Linked DNA regions of Homo sapiens. The protein of the gene in region 1 interacts with the protein of each later gene in a pairwise test. Each region holds a gene or a part of one and is shown on either strand. Other genes may lie near its edges. The genes, in order: SYCP3 and SYCP2.

The links.
Region 2: the proteins of SYCP3 (region 1) and SYCP2 interact in a two-hybrid assay, tested with the Homo sapiens proteins (one study listed by BioGRID).

Annotation. Positions count from the first base shown.
Region 1 is NC_000012.12:101,729,319-101,736,605, forward strand, and holds part of SYCP3 (synaptonemal complex protein 3), read right to left. Parts: intron 5,727-7,287; coding exon 5,609-5,726; intron 4,357-5,608; coding exon 4,257-4,356; intron 2,349-4,256; coding exon 2,250-2,348; intron 1-2,249.
Region 2 is NC_000020.11:59,923,615-59,930,901, forward strand, and holds part of SYCP2 (synaptonemal complex protein 2), read right to left. Parts: intron 1-7,287. UniProt on the Homo sapiens protein: Major component of the axial/lateral elements of synaptonemal complexes (SCS) during meiotic prophase. Plays a role in the assembly of synaptonemal complexes.

The DNA.
Region 1 (7,287 bases):
GCTCATCTATTTGAAATAAAAATATTCTAAGTAATACATGAATACCAAAATACCTACTAAAAAAGAAAAAATATAAGACATGAATAAAATGTTATAGGAAGTACAATGTAGTATACTTTGCCCACAATGGGTTTCCTGAACTGTTAAGGTCAAGATAAAAAAGACTGGAAGTCCCACATCAGTAAAAACCATTTCTATTAAGCTTTCCAAATATCAAGCAATAATCTACTTATGACTAATAGTGTGCCATGAATTCACTAGAGGGAATAAAATAATCTATAGTACAACCTCTTTCACATTATGAAAAATAAAAATTATGTCTTACGTCTTTATTATTCATTCAACAAACAGTTAATCTGGTGCCTACTATGTAAAAGGTGTGTATTAAGTGCTGTAGAGAAATTAAAAAACAATAATACATGATTGCTTCCTGATGGCAATGAGAAAAAAACATAGGAACAAAACAAAAATTTTATAATAGGAATGGAAGCACAACTTGCTGTGGTGATATAGTGGAAAATGGGGATTAATTCCAATTTAGTGGGCAAAATACTAAGATTTCAATAGATAAAGAAAAAGGAGTTAAATATATTCTAGGGGAAGGGCATAAGCAGAAGCATGGAAGTACATAGTGAGCTGAGAGAAAGCAGTTATGTGGAGGGGTGGGGTAATGAACAAATGTAGTAAATGAAGCTTAAAAAGAGGGTCATGTCATAGGGGGATCTTCAATACCTAAGAATTTAGAACAGGAGGCTACTGACAGTTTTTCAAGAGGGAAGAGATATATTTTTAAAAGATAATATGGCAGATCTAGGAGGGATAGATTGGAGAACAGAGACATCAGTTAAGAATTTTAATGGTACAAGCAAATAATAATGAGGTCCTAAACTAGGGTAGTAGCAGTGGGCATTAAAAGAAAGAACCACTGCAGAAGTAAAAATTACAGGGCCTAGTAATAACTGGATGTGACAGAGAAAGGAGATGGAAGAGTCAAAGGTTATACTATAGTTCCTATCCTAAATAGTAACATTTAGTGATAACATTTAGAAGAAATCTTTATCTAGTACTTTATCAAAACTTCACACCAACTACCAAATGGTTCTCAGAGCATTGGAACAAGACAACAAGTTTTCCACTTGGAAATACTTTTTAAAATAACATGTGTGTGTATAATTTTTTTTTTTTTTTTTTTTTTGAGGCAGGGTCTCGCTGTCGCCCAGGCTGGAGTACAGTAGTACGATTTCAGCTCACTGCAACCTTTGCCTCCAGGGCTCAAGTGATCCTCCCACCTCAGCCTTCCCAGTAGCTGGGACTACAGGTGAGTGCCACCATGCCCAGCTATTTTTGTTTGTTTGTTTGTTCTTAATAGAGATGGGGTTTTGTCATGTTGCTCAGGCTGGTCTTGAAACCCTGGGCTCGAGTGATCTCGCCTTGGCATCCCAAAGTGTCAGCCACTGTGCTCGGCCATATATATTAAAGTTATTCTGAAATATTTATTTTAAAACAATTTTGCTAGTTTACTTAGAGCATCCCAATTCCTTTAATGTTATTTTAACATGTATTTGCACAAGACTATCTAAAGGAACCACCACTGAAAAAAAGTATATGCAAGATTCCATTGAGCTTCTATGAATAGTTACTAAAAAGTATATTTCTGCCTGAACAAGAGGGGTACAGACTACAATTTGCTAATATGTATGTGTCAGTAGATAATTATCAATCCACAGACTTTTAATCCTCAGATGTCTATTATATCTGTTATTTTATGTTGGATATAAATTCATTTTTGGTCACTGTAATAATTCTAAAAGCAAATGTGCCATAAAATACTTCTATAATACATTTGAAAACAAGAGAATTCAATAATTTGGGTACTTTCTATTTAACAAACACTGGGGATAAAAAAACAAGTAAAATACAACCTAAAAATGATTATTATAGAGTCTATTTTCACTTAAACAGAGAACTATGACTGAAGTGTTATTAAAGTATGGATTTTATGCATGATAAGTATATTTCTAAGTAAAATTCCCAATTTACCATTTCCTGTCTTGAATAATCCCAACAAAACCATTTGAATCCTCAAGTAAAAATATATTTATCACTTAAATCAGAAACAATGAATTCAAAATGGAAAAGTAGTTAAAGTCTAAAATGTTTTTTCCCATAAACTTAGAAAGAATTATCTTCTACTTCCATAAATATATTATGTTTTATAACGATGTATTGTGTTACCACATACAACAAACCTTTATGAACTGCTCATATAACTGTTTAATTGTTTTCAATCTCTGGCTCTGAACAATTCTAGATTGTTGAAGAATCTTTTGTTGCTGTCGAAACATATTCTACAAATATAAAAGAAAAAAAACTGTGTAATAACAATTTGGGTAAAATTTTAAATTTAGAAAAAATAATTCTACATTAAACTTAAAAGAAAGTGTTAAAAATCAATGCTTTTAAAATTTTAACAACTATTATGACCACATTTAGATAATTTATGTTCACCACTAATATGTAACAATATATTAATTCTACCAGTTGCTGAATGGGAAATTTTAACAATAATCAAGTCATGTCTTAATTCTTGGTGATTTCAATGTCCACACAGATGATCCTTCCAATAATAATGGTTTTCCGTTTCGTGACCTGTTTCTCAATGATTTTGGCCTCTACCCTACTTTAGCCATTGACTTACATACTCCCACCCTAGATTTTGTCATTACTAATAATTCTAACCACTACACAGTATTAGTAATGGTAAACTTTCTAAGAGATAGATACTCAGCATTCCCCTTTCATAGATGAGTAAACTGAGGCATAATCTGTCCATGGTTTCACAGCTACAATTGCTCAAACAAGAATTTGATCCAAAACAGTATTGTTGCTGGCATCCAGGCTCTAACCATTATACATACTGTTTCTCTGTCTATCCTAGTATTTAACCACTACTTCTTTACCATTCTAACTTACTCTTTTTAGTACTACAGCTCAATAATCTATCAGTGCCACAAATCCATCCTATCTATTTTACACTGTCATCCCTACCCCCAATATCCTCACTTGCAGGTAACACAAGTCTGGCCATTAAAAGTCAACAATGTTCTGACTACAGACATCCTTAGGTATCCTGGGGGGACCAGTTCCAGGACACCCAACCCCTCAGGAGACCAAAATGTGCAGATGCTCGAGTTCCTGTTACAAAATGGCATCATATTTGCATATAACCAATGCACATCCTTCCACATACTTTAAATCATTTCTAGATCTCTTATAATACCTAACACAATGTAAATGCTGTATAGTTGTAACACTGGATTATTTTTCCAATTTGCATTTTTTCTTTTTTCTTTTTTTTTTTTTTTCAAGAAAGGGTCTCCCTCTGTCACCCAGGCTGGAGTGCAGTGGCACAATCTCGGCTCACTGCAGCCTCCGCCTCCCAGGTTCAAGTGATTCTCCCGCCTCAGCCTCCTGAGTAACTTGGATTATAGGCACACGCCATCACAGCCCGGCTAATTTTTGTATTTCTAGTAGAGATGGGTTTTCACCATATTGGTCAGGCTGGTCTCAAACTCCCAACCTCAGGTGATCCACCCGCCTCGGCCTCCCAAAGTGCTGGGATTACAGGCATGAACCACCACCACGCCCAGCCTTTTCCAAATATTTTTCATCCACGATTGGTTGAATACACAGATGCGGAACCCTTATATACAGAGGGCTAACTATACAATGATTGGTTCAAGAATGGGCAAATGATCCAAACTCCCATCAGTCATATTTTCCCAGAGGAATTTTTTGCCAGAGCTATTGAGAAAGATTTTCTCAGTCCACTGGGGTTACTAAACTTGTAATAAGCCTAGGACTGTAAAAACTATCTTGCTTACTACATCAAGACACCTTACTAAGTACTGATGACAGAACCCAGATGACACTACATGAGCAACCCCCTCCCTGTTCCCATCTGGCTATGCCTGAAGCTAAACTGCCCCGACTTCTTTTACATAAACCAATGATCCTTCTTTTGTACTTTGACAAATTTCTGTCACTTGGAAATGCAGGAACCCCAAACAATATAAATGCCTTTTATGAGTATGGTATGTGCCTATACGTCTGTGGTTTACAGTTCAGTAGGTTTAAAACACATGGCCAGCAATGGTTAATGAAACCTGGCTCAGTTCCACTGGTCACAATAAAAGGCTAGGTTGTCCATTCCTACTTGAGACTTGGTTGATTATAAACCTAATCATGATACCAACAAGTATTTTTTCTTCTTGTTCCTCAGCTTTCTGCATATCTAAATCCCACTGCTGAAACAAAGTCAGAAACTGCTGAGAATATTCTTGGTTAAGCTTCTGCCTGTAAAACATAATGATGAATTATTGTCATATTTCATACCAATATAAAAAGAATTTAAAACAAAACTGAGTTGACACAGTTATACTATATAAGAAAAGGAAATACCTGCAGCTTAAGTCTTCTGATGGGAAACCAAAAAGTAAAATTATGATTTACACTGATTCCAGAAGTATTTTTTTTCTAACAAACTAATAGAAGAAAAGCCCTGTCACAAGCTTTAGCTCTTGAAAACTAAGGAAGTTTTATTGTATATATAAATTTTCAAAAAGAAATTCATCTGATCTCTAAGCAGTTTATTTTTCATTTTTTTCCTATTGAATATAGATTCTGATATAACAAATACATTAAATAAGGTGATTGTATTTATCCTATAAGATTTCTAAATAGAAATAGTTCGCTTAATTTTTTTCCCTATTTTGGCTTAACAAAAGATTTTATACAAAAGAAGAGTTAAGTCAGCTAAAACATACAAATTATATACGATACAAGATTGGTGTTCTTCTACATTGTTGAACATAATTCACCATCATAAGACTAACGGTTTTTATGACATTTACCTTTTATTCAACTAGTGTATTTCTAGAATGAACATAAATTACTTTTAGGCTGGGCATGGTGGTTCATGCCTATAATCCCAGCACTTGGGAGGCTGAGGTGAGAGGATCGCTTGAGCCTAGGAGTTCAAGACCAGCCTGGGCAACATAATGAGACCCCCATCTCATAAAACAACAACAAAAAACGAAATTACTTTTATAACCTCACTTGTTACCTAAAAGGAAAAAAGTGATCTTTATTGATTTTTTAGGAAATAATGTCAATTCTATGAAGGAGTGAGGTTATAGGGCTACAGGACTATCATACTTAGAGAAAAATCAAGCCAAATACATTTTCACTAGAAACCCCAGTAACTAGAATAGTATTTTTCTTTTCTTGTTTTTTTTGACAGAGTCTCACTCTGTTGCCCAGGCTAGAGTGCAGTGTCACGACCTTGGCTCACTGTAACCTCTGCCTCCTAGGTTCAAGCGAGCACGCCTGGTTAATTTTTGTATTTTTAGTAGAGATGGAGTTTCACCATGTTGGCCAGGCTGGTCTCTAACTCCTGACCTCAAGTGATCTGCCTGCCTTGGCCTCCCAAAGTGCTGGGATTACTGGCATGAGCCACCGTGCCGATCCTAGAATAGTATTTTTCATAAGTAATTTATACCAGTAAATACTAAGAAATGTGGCTCTAAAAAAAAAGCAACCACCTTACCTTTGATCTTGTTGTGTTTTCCAAACATGTTCAATTTTCTGGTTACTAGTTTTGAGAGAAGCCTTGGTATACATTTCTAGTCTCTTTCTCTTGGCAAGAAGAGCCTTGTTAATGTCAACTAGATTGAAAATAAAAATTCATTAAAATTTAATGTTGAAAAAAGTATTTTGTTCCCACATATTCAAGTAAATATGGGTAAGGTTGGTTCAACAATATTGGAAAGACATTTAAACTTAAATTTAGAAATAGGCATAATTTCAAAATGCAGAATTGTTTGCTTACTTTTTTTTTCTGAGAAAACTCTCAGCTACTAGCACCCAAATTCTGATTTTCCTAACTGGAGATAATTTTTTAACTTAGGAACAATAAAAAAGAGCTAATAAACAAAACAATGTGTCAAGGACAGACTTTAAATTTCCCCATGAGAAAACACTGTTAATAAAGGCTAAATGTAGGCCAGACGCGGTGGCTCACACCTGTAATCCCAGCACTTTGGGAGTCTGAGGCAGGCAGATCACAAGGTCAAAAGATCGAGACCATCCTGACCAACGTGGTGAAAGCCTGTCTCTACTAAAAATACAAAAATTAGCTGGGCGTGGTGGCGCACACCTGTAGTCACAACTACTTGGCAGACTGAGGCAGGAGAATCGCTTGAACCCGGGAGGCAGAGGTTGCAGTGAGCTGAGATTGCACCACTGCACTCCAGCCTGGGGACAGAGTGAGACTCCGTCTCAAAAATAAAAAAAAATTTTTAAAAAGGCTAAATTTATCTAAATTTATAAAATACACCCCAATTAAAAGGACACATTTCAATGAATTATTGTTAGAACTCATTATAGAAAATATGTAAAAGTACTCTATTAGAAAGAATCCAAAAAGGATAAAAATAGTTAAAGAAGAAAACTATTTTTAATATAATCAATTTTATATATATATATATATATATTTTTTTTTTTTTAAAGACACGGGGGTCTCACTATGTTGACCAAGCTGGTCTTGAACTCCTGGCCTCAAGCAATCCTCCTGCCTTGGCCTTCCAAAGTGCTGGAATTACAGGTGTGAGCCCCTGTGCCTGGCCATCAATGATACTTTTAAATACATTTTTTACTAAGAGACAAAGACCAAGGACAGAAAAAAATCTTAGTTTAAGTAAATTTCTAGATAAATTAAGATCACTTTATTTTTCAATGAGAAATAGGTGAATAAGATCAGTTTTAAATGCTTTTGTGGAGCTCTTTATTGGGCATTTTTACCCATAAGAACTGCATTTCATAAAATGTTTACTACTTCAAATAATGCTTTGCTAAACATAAGCCTTTATCTTATGGATCTACCATAAATAGGTATCTTTCAGTAATCATGCTGTAGCTGCACTATTACATAAATATTTTATACTTTCAGTATTATCTATAATAAATTTATAAAACAAGCACTGTTTCACCACCGGACAGAGCAAAGGTTTCAAAAAAGAGTTGACTGTATGAACAATCCATTTAGAGGAGCTAAATATTAACTCTTTTTTAAGATAACTAATCTCTAACAAAGCTCATATTATTGATACTTAATATATTATTTAAAACTTGAGAATTTTTGAACCTAATTATAAAACTCTATCTAGCAAAATTGTCTTTAGTATCAACTACATAGTTTATTAATGTAAAAAGAGTTATTTTAGAGGC
Region 2 (7,287 bases), on another chromosome or scaffold:
TTGCTTGAGCCTAGAAGTTGAAGGTTACAGTGAGCTATGACTACAACACTGTACTCTAGCCTAGTCAAGAGAGGGAGACTCTGTCTCTAAAATAAACAAAAAGAATGCATGTCATCATTTCTAAGGTAACCACTAAATGAGTAGTGAAAGAATACGTAACTACTAAGCTAAGTGTGAGGAGGGAGGCTGTAATGTTTTCATTTTAATCAATCCAGAGAGAGAGAGAGAAACAGAAAGAGACCCAGAAGAAGAAAGAAAAACAGACAACACAAAGTAAGGTGATAGATTAAAAGTTACATATCAATAATTACATTGAAAGTAAAATATATTAAATACTCTGAAGAAGTAAGAATGTCACCCTCCCAATATGCTGCTCTGACATATTGACTATTTTAAATTAAAGGCACTCAACAAAAAACAGCAGGTACAAGATCACTCCCACCTTCATTCTGTTTCCTAAAAGCAGGAAATGAAATTCCCATGTGAAAGATGTCCTCTCTATACCAAAAGAGAAGTAATCTTATAATTAAGGAGGGGAAGTTAAAATTAAGAAAATCTGTACAACCAAACTTTGTTAAACCCACTCCTATCTTCCTAGTCATTTCTCCACCCAATTAACTACCCTAGCCTAAGGCCTCTTTGCCTTATCTTAGTTCACAACTTACTATTCTTTGTCCAATTCAGTATATAACTGACCCTAACTACTTCTTTGGGTCTTCATGTTCTTATGAGGGATCCTGTGTCATGTAAAACATGTATTAAAGAAATTTGTGTGTTTTTCTCCAGTTGATCTGTCTATGTCAATTTAACTCTAAAAGGGAAGAGGTAAAGTTTTGCCTCCCCTACAACTCCAATTAAAAGGCAGATTGTCCTCAAAGGATCAGTGCTTGAGGGATGGATACCCCATTCTCCATAATGTGCTCATTTAACATTGCGTGCCTGTATCAAAACATCTTACATACTCCATTGACACCTACTATGTACCCACAAAAATTAAAAAGAAAAAAGTTGGATTGTCGGGTAGGTTAATCATTTTTAAAACTATATGCTGTCCAAAAATATTATATTTTAAGAGATATACCTTAAATAAAGGGCTACAAAACAGTTGGAAATAAAAAGAAAAGATAGCTACCACACAAACAAAAGAAAGCTAATAAAACTATATTACTGTTGGATTTACCATAAAAGTCCAACACAGATGGTACTGAAAAGAGAATCCAGAAACAGACCTATACACATGACTTGACTTATGATCAAGGTAGAACATAAAGCAGTAAGGAAAGGGTAAGATAATCTTTTCAATTAATCTATACTGTTCAACTGGATGTTCATAAGAAATATAACAAAACCTCACTACTTCATACCATCTCATACCATATGCAAACACCATTTCCAGGTGGAATGAAAATTGAGAACAATTAAGTTTCTAGAACATAATATATTAGAACATCTTCATGACCTGCAATAAGCAATAAGCAAGATTATAAAAAGCTCTAACCATAAAAGACAACTGATAAGTTGGACAACCTTAAAATCAGAAACTCTTGTTCAATGAGAACACATGGATACAGGGAGGGGAACAACACACACTGGTGCCTGGTGGGGCAGCAGGAGGGAGAGCATTAGGAAAAATGGCTAATGCATGCTTAGTTTAATACTTACAGGTTGATAGGTGCAGCAAACCACCATGACACACATTTTCCTATGCAACAAACCTGCACATCTTGCACATGTAGCCCAGAACTTAAAATAACCTATTGATTTTCTCAATCCATGAGCATAGGATTTAACAAAAGAAAGAACTCTGTTGGAAAACATCATTGAGAGAACAAGGCAGGCCACACAGATGAAAGTATTTTTCTCTTGTACATTATTCACATGTGTGAATATTCACAACTGTTACTAAGTTATCTGGTTATCAGTTAATGTAAACATACTCTTGGAAACATGAACTGAATAAAAGGGTCCTATTTTGGCACCTCAGCCTATTTAATGTCATAGCCTCTGACCTTCCACCTTCAAAAGAGTCTATAACTCTGACCAGTTGCCTCACTTGTTAACGTATTGCCCTGGTAACAAGGTTATAATTGACATCTTTGATTCCTAAATGTTTTAAATAGAGGGAAGATTTCCTCATCAAACAGAGGATTACTGGGACTACTACTGCTCCCAAATGCATGTAGGTACTATAATTTATTATCAATCTGTTAGATTTCTTTTTTTAAGAAAACCAGAAGTTCATGAGTGTTCATTTAGATGAAGTGAAGCAGAACAATACTGCCTGCTTTAAAACCTCACTAGTTTGTCAAAACCTCACAGAGAACTGTGGAAATAATAGCTCTGAATTTATGTTTGTCTATAGGCTCAGAATTCTTCCTAACCCCACCTCCTAGTATTAAGGAAACAAACTTTAGAAGTAACAAAAGCAGCTTCCATTCAGGAATCTGCTGGGAGACAGTCTCCAGCCAAAACAAATATGGATTGAAGGAGGAACCTTCTCCTGTAAGACAGGTTTCATAAATCCAATAAATTCCATAAGGGATGGAATTGTGCCAACTGCCTCTGTAACAAGAAGAAAAATGTTTGCTCACAGCTATGTGTGGACTCTCACTGTATTAATTTCCTAGGGTTGCCTTAACAAAGTGCCACAAACTGGATGGCTTAGAACAGCAGAAATTATCTCAGTGTGGAGGCAAGACGTCTAAAGTAAAGGGGTCAGTAGGATCATACTCCCTCTGAAAGTGCTGGAAGAAGGATCTTTAAGCTTCTGGTAGCTGCCGACATTCTTTGACTTGTGGCAGTATAAATCCACTCTCTGCCTCCTTTATCACATGGTATTCTTCCTTTTACTTTTCACATTGTCTTCTATGCATATCTGTATCCAAATTTCCCCTTTTTATAAATATATATTGGGTTAGGGCCCACCCTAATAACTTAAATAATAAGTTAATAACTTAACTTGGTTAAATGCAAAAGACCCTATTTCCAGAAAAGGTCACATTCTGAGATACTGGGAATTAGAATCTCACATATCTTTTTAGGGGAACACAATTCAACCCATAACAGTCACTACATAAAGCCCAAACTTAATATTGGAATGCCAAAAACATGGGATTCAAAGAAGAAATAAAAGTTGAGGTTTTGAATGTACTGGGTGGGGAAGGAAAACATGTCATATAAGAGCTAGTAACCAGGGCAGCCTGGGTTACCCCCTTGCACATAAGGCAGCAATGCCATTACAGGGTGACATAATTATAGAAATTTTCCTCAAATGTAGTGCCAAAATTAGCCTCTTGCTGAAATATTTTCTCCATTTCAATTAAAGTGAAACAAGTCAGATTCTGGATAACTGACAGAGACTGGTCTACTGGAAATATATACCAGAACTTTGGCATTGGACAAACAGTTTCTGAGAACATATAACTGGTACTTCCTTTCCATGGAAAACAGCTGAAGCTACAGCTGATGAAAGAACTCCAACTCCACCAAAGAATCTGACTGCACTTGAACGTAATGAGATTTGTTGAGAATGTGTCTTTGGGACTTAAAAGTTTTGGCCTTTAGACTTTTAAATTCAGAAGCACAAAAAAAGGATTCTGGACACTTAAATCTTTCAGTCCTTGGTCTTTAACTTGTAAAGGGTTTTAATCTTGCAACCTTAATGTTCCCTGAGATGTTCAAAACAGAAAATCTTTACATTCAAATTTGTTGGCATTTTACTGCTGAAACATCTTTATGTATTGCCAAATACCTTTGTTCAGTATAGTACATCAAAGGCTCTACCATATATCTAGAGATAATTTGGAATGGGAAGTAAAACAGTGACATTTCTGCCTCAGATATAGAGTGGCATTAGGTTTCAATTTTCTGTTCTAACCCAAAGTAGAATCTTCTTCCAGGGTCAACATCTAAAGTTCTTCCACAATCCAAAGAGAATACCCAAAAGAAGGTAATGGCCTCATGAAGAAAGGAAAAGAACCATCCAGATAAATCTCCTCCAAAAAACAGGTTAATAATTAAGTGAACAAAAAGCTAGGAAATGTTAGAGAGAAATACCTTTTCCCTACTCCTAGCTTCCGTGAGAAAGACTGAGTATACCATCGGCCTCTCTCTATTTCTTTAATTTACATCACCACTGAGGAGCTGGAAATATTTGATTGGTAAATTTGGGAAGGAAAATGAGCCAGGCTCAGCTCAGGCTCACCCTTTTGTTTACATGAAAACTGAAAGAGGAGTTTCATGTTGTTTTCAGTTTTGTTCCTTCTGGAAGCTCTGCCCCTGTGAGAAAGTCAGTATTTTGTTCTGTCCTTTTTTTCTGGAGTCAATACAGTAAGCTTTCTCTTCCAGGGTGGAAGGTGAAAAATGCAGGGCTGGAAAGGTCTAACTCAATTACCTTGCAGTGCCTTGGGCAGTAAGTTTGCTCAATTCTGGAGCTCAGTATTAGCAAATTCACTAGGCCAACAACCTAAACTCACACCCATGAACCTAGCCAATATAGGACTAATGAAGGTTACGTTTCTTTTCCTACTCTGTCAGAACCCAGGAAGAAAGAGGAATGCTGTTTATCAGAGGACCTTTGAGAGATTCCAGCGAGGCTCAACATAAATATCTACAGTGTTCCTTTTTATATTAGCAATAATCAGACAATTGCATTTTTTAATATAAATAACTAAAATGAATAAATCTAACAAAAAGATCTTAACAAGAGATATGAATACATGGAGTTGTTCCTATTCATTAATGGAAGGACTTAACATTATAAAACCATCAATGCTTCACTAAAATAAACATCTGAATTTCTAAACTCCAAAGCAATTCCAGTAAAAATCACAAAATAATAATTTGAGAGATTTGGCTAATTCTTTTAAAACATGTATGGAGGAATAATGCTGCTCTAATACTAAAATAACTTTTAAAATATTAGAGAAGAAAAATCACCTTATTTGATATTAAAACATATTACAAAGTCACAAGAAATAACTATAAACAGTGAAGTATTAAGAATGGAAAACAAATGGATCAATAAAACAAAACAGAATTCAAACACATAAGCATATATTGGAAGTTCATATTTGAGTCAGATGGTTTCGCAAATCGGGAAAGGTAAACTGGTCAATAAATGGTCTGGGAAAAGTGACTTGGCATGTGGAAAAAATAACATTAGAAATCTATTTTGCCATAAAAAAATAAGGTCTAGATAAATTAACTACATGAATGTAAAAAGTAAATGTTTATAAACTATTAGCAGAAAATTCAGGAGGCTATCACTAAGATGTTCCAAGAGGAAAGAATTTAAAACAAATGCACAAAACATAAAAAGTAATAGATTTTAACTTTTTGTGCATCACTGTTTGTAAAAGAGAGGCAGCATACTAGGAAGACATTTGCAATGGAATAAGAGACTAAGGATTAACATAAAAAGTATTATTATGAAGAACTTAACAAATCAAGGAGGAAAAAAAAGCAATAACCCAACAGCAAAAATGGAAAAGAAGAAGAGGTCATTCAGAAAGTAAAACTCAACTGGCTAATAAAGAAATGAAAATGCTACCTCCATGGTAATCAGAATGCTAGTAAAACAATAACCAGTCCCCTCTCCACCATCCACCATATTGGCAAAAACTAAAGAGACTGATACTACGAAGTCACAGTGGGAATAAAGGAAATTGGAAATCATGTATGTACTCCTGGTGGGAAGCAAATAACTGCACTTTGAAAAAGAGTTTGATAGCATTGGGTAAAAATGTAAACTTGAATACCATATGACACAGTAGTTCCACTTCTAATTTTACACTTTAGAGAAACTCAGAAGCACAAAGGGAATATAAAAATATTTACTGAAGCATTTCTTCTAATATCAAGAAACTGAAAACTGCCTCTGTCAGTGTGTTGGGTGAGGAGGTAAACATGAAATGTGGTGAGTGATGCAACTGAATTCAGTAGCTGAATATAATGAAGAAGATCTGTATCTCAGAATATGGTGCATCTCAAACACAATATAAAGCATAAAAAATGCAGAATGAGATAATAGAAATTCTTTATGTAAAATCTAAAGTATACTTAATAAAGGCTTATATGCACTGTTATTGATATGTGTATATCTGTGTAACACCAGAGGATACTTTATTAAAGAAGGATACAAATACTGGGCATATGAACATTGGATGATTTGCACAGGTAAAGAAAATAACCCTAGGGATAGGGAATAAAATGGACCAAAAGACAAAAAAAAAAAGAGAATTTTAATTATTTATTTAGAGGAGTGTAGTAAAGCATGGTGTCTAGACTGAGAATACAATTGATTAAATTAACTTAATTCTGTTTCCTAAGGTTCAACATACACTCATATATACCCTTTCAATCACCACAACCATTAGGACAGAGCAAAAGGGGCCCCTGCTATGCGCTCTATATAGTGTAATCTCTTTCTCACTATCTCTTATTACTGAGCACACAGGCATCTCTATTAGCTCAAAATCCAGGACTCAGCCCTACCCCCAGAAAGTCTATAACCATGAACACATTATTCATTCTCATAACTCTATCTTTCAGGCCCCTGAACTTCCTTTGCCTATGCCTATGAAAGAAGAGGACTGCAATTAATTACACTATTCTGCTTACTTTACGTATGTCCGAATTTTCCATAATAATAAAAAAAAAATGCTTAAAGAAGTCGGGGAGTGTGAAGCCACAATTGAATACAGAGAAGGTTTCAGATTGTGCTAATGCTAACATTTTAGTCTCTGCTTCAGAACAAAGATAGCATGTGAGCAAGTGCTTAGGTAAGAGAAAAGAGATATTGTCAAATCCTTCCCCTGCAAAGCAAGAACACAGATGATTCTTGCATGACAAGATACTACTTCTTAACAGTGCCAAATGCCCATCTTCTTCCTTCTCTTTTTACTCCAATTTGTGACTCTAGAAATACTAGCAAATTAGTGCACAGTATTTGCAACAGTAGCACATGGTGGCTGAGGAACATTCTGTAGTAGTAAGCAATCTATATTAATATATATGTAGATCTAGACATGAACTACGTGAACATGATATGGACTCTTTAGACAGTAAGCAAACACTAAAATAGTGAATAAATGTATTGTTATAATATTTAATAATATGCAATTATTCAAAAATAAGCAATTCCGGTGTTATTAAAATTTTTTAAGGAAACAATTACAATTCTACAATAATTTTAATATTTAAGAATTTTTTAAAGAAAAATACTTTTTACACCTATTTTATGTTTGTGATATAAACCCAAATTTGATACATTTTGAGTATAACACA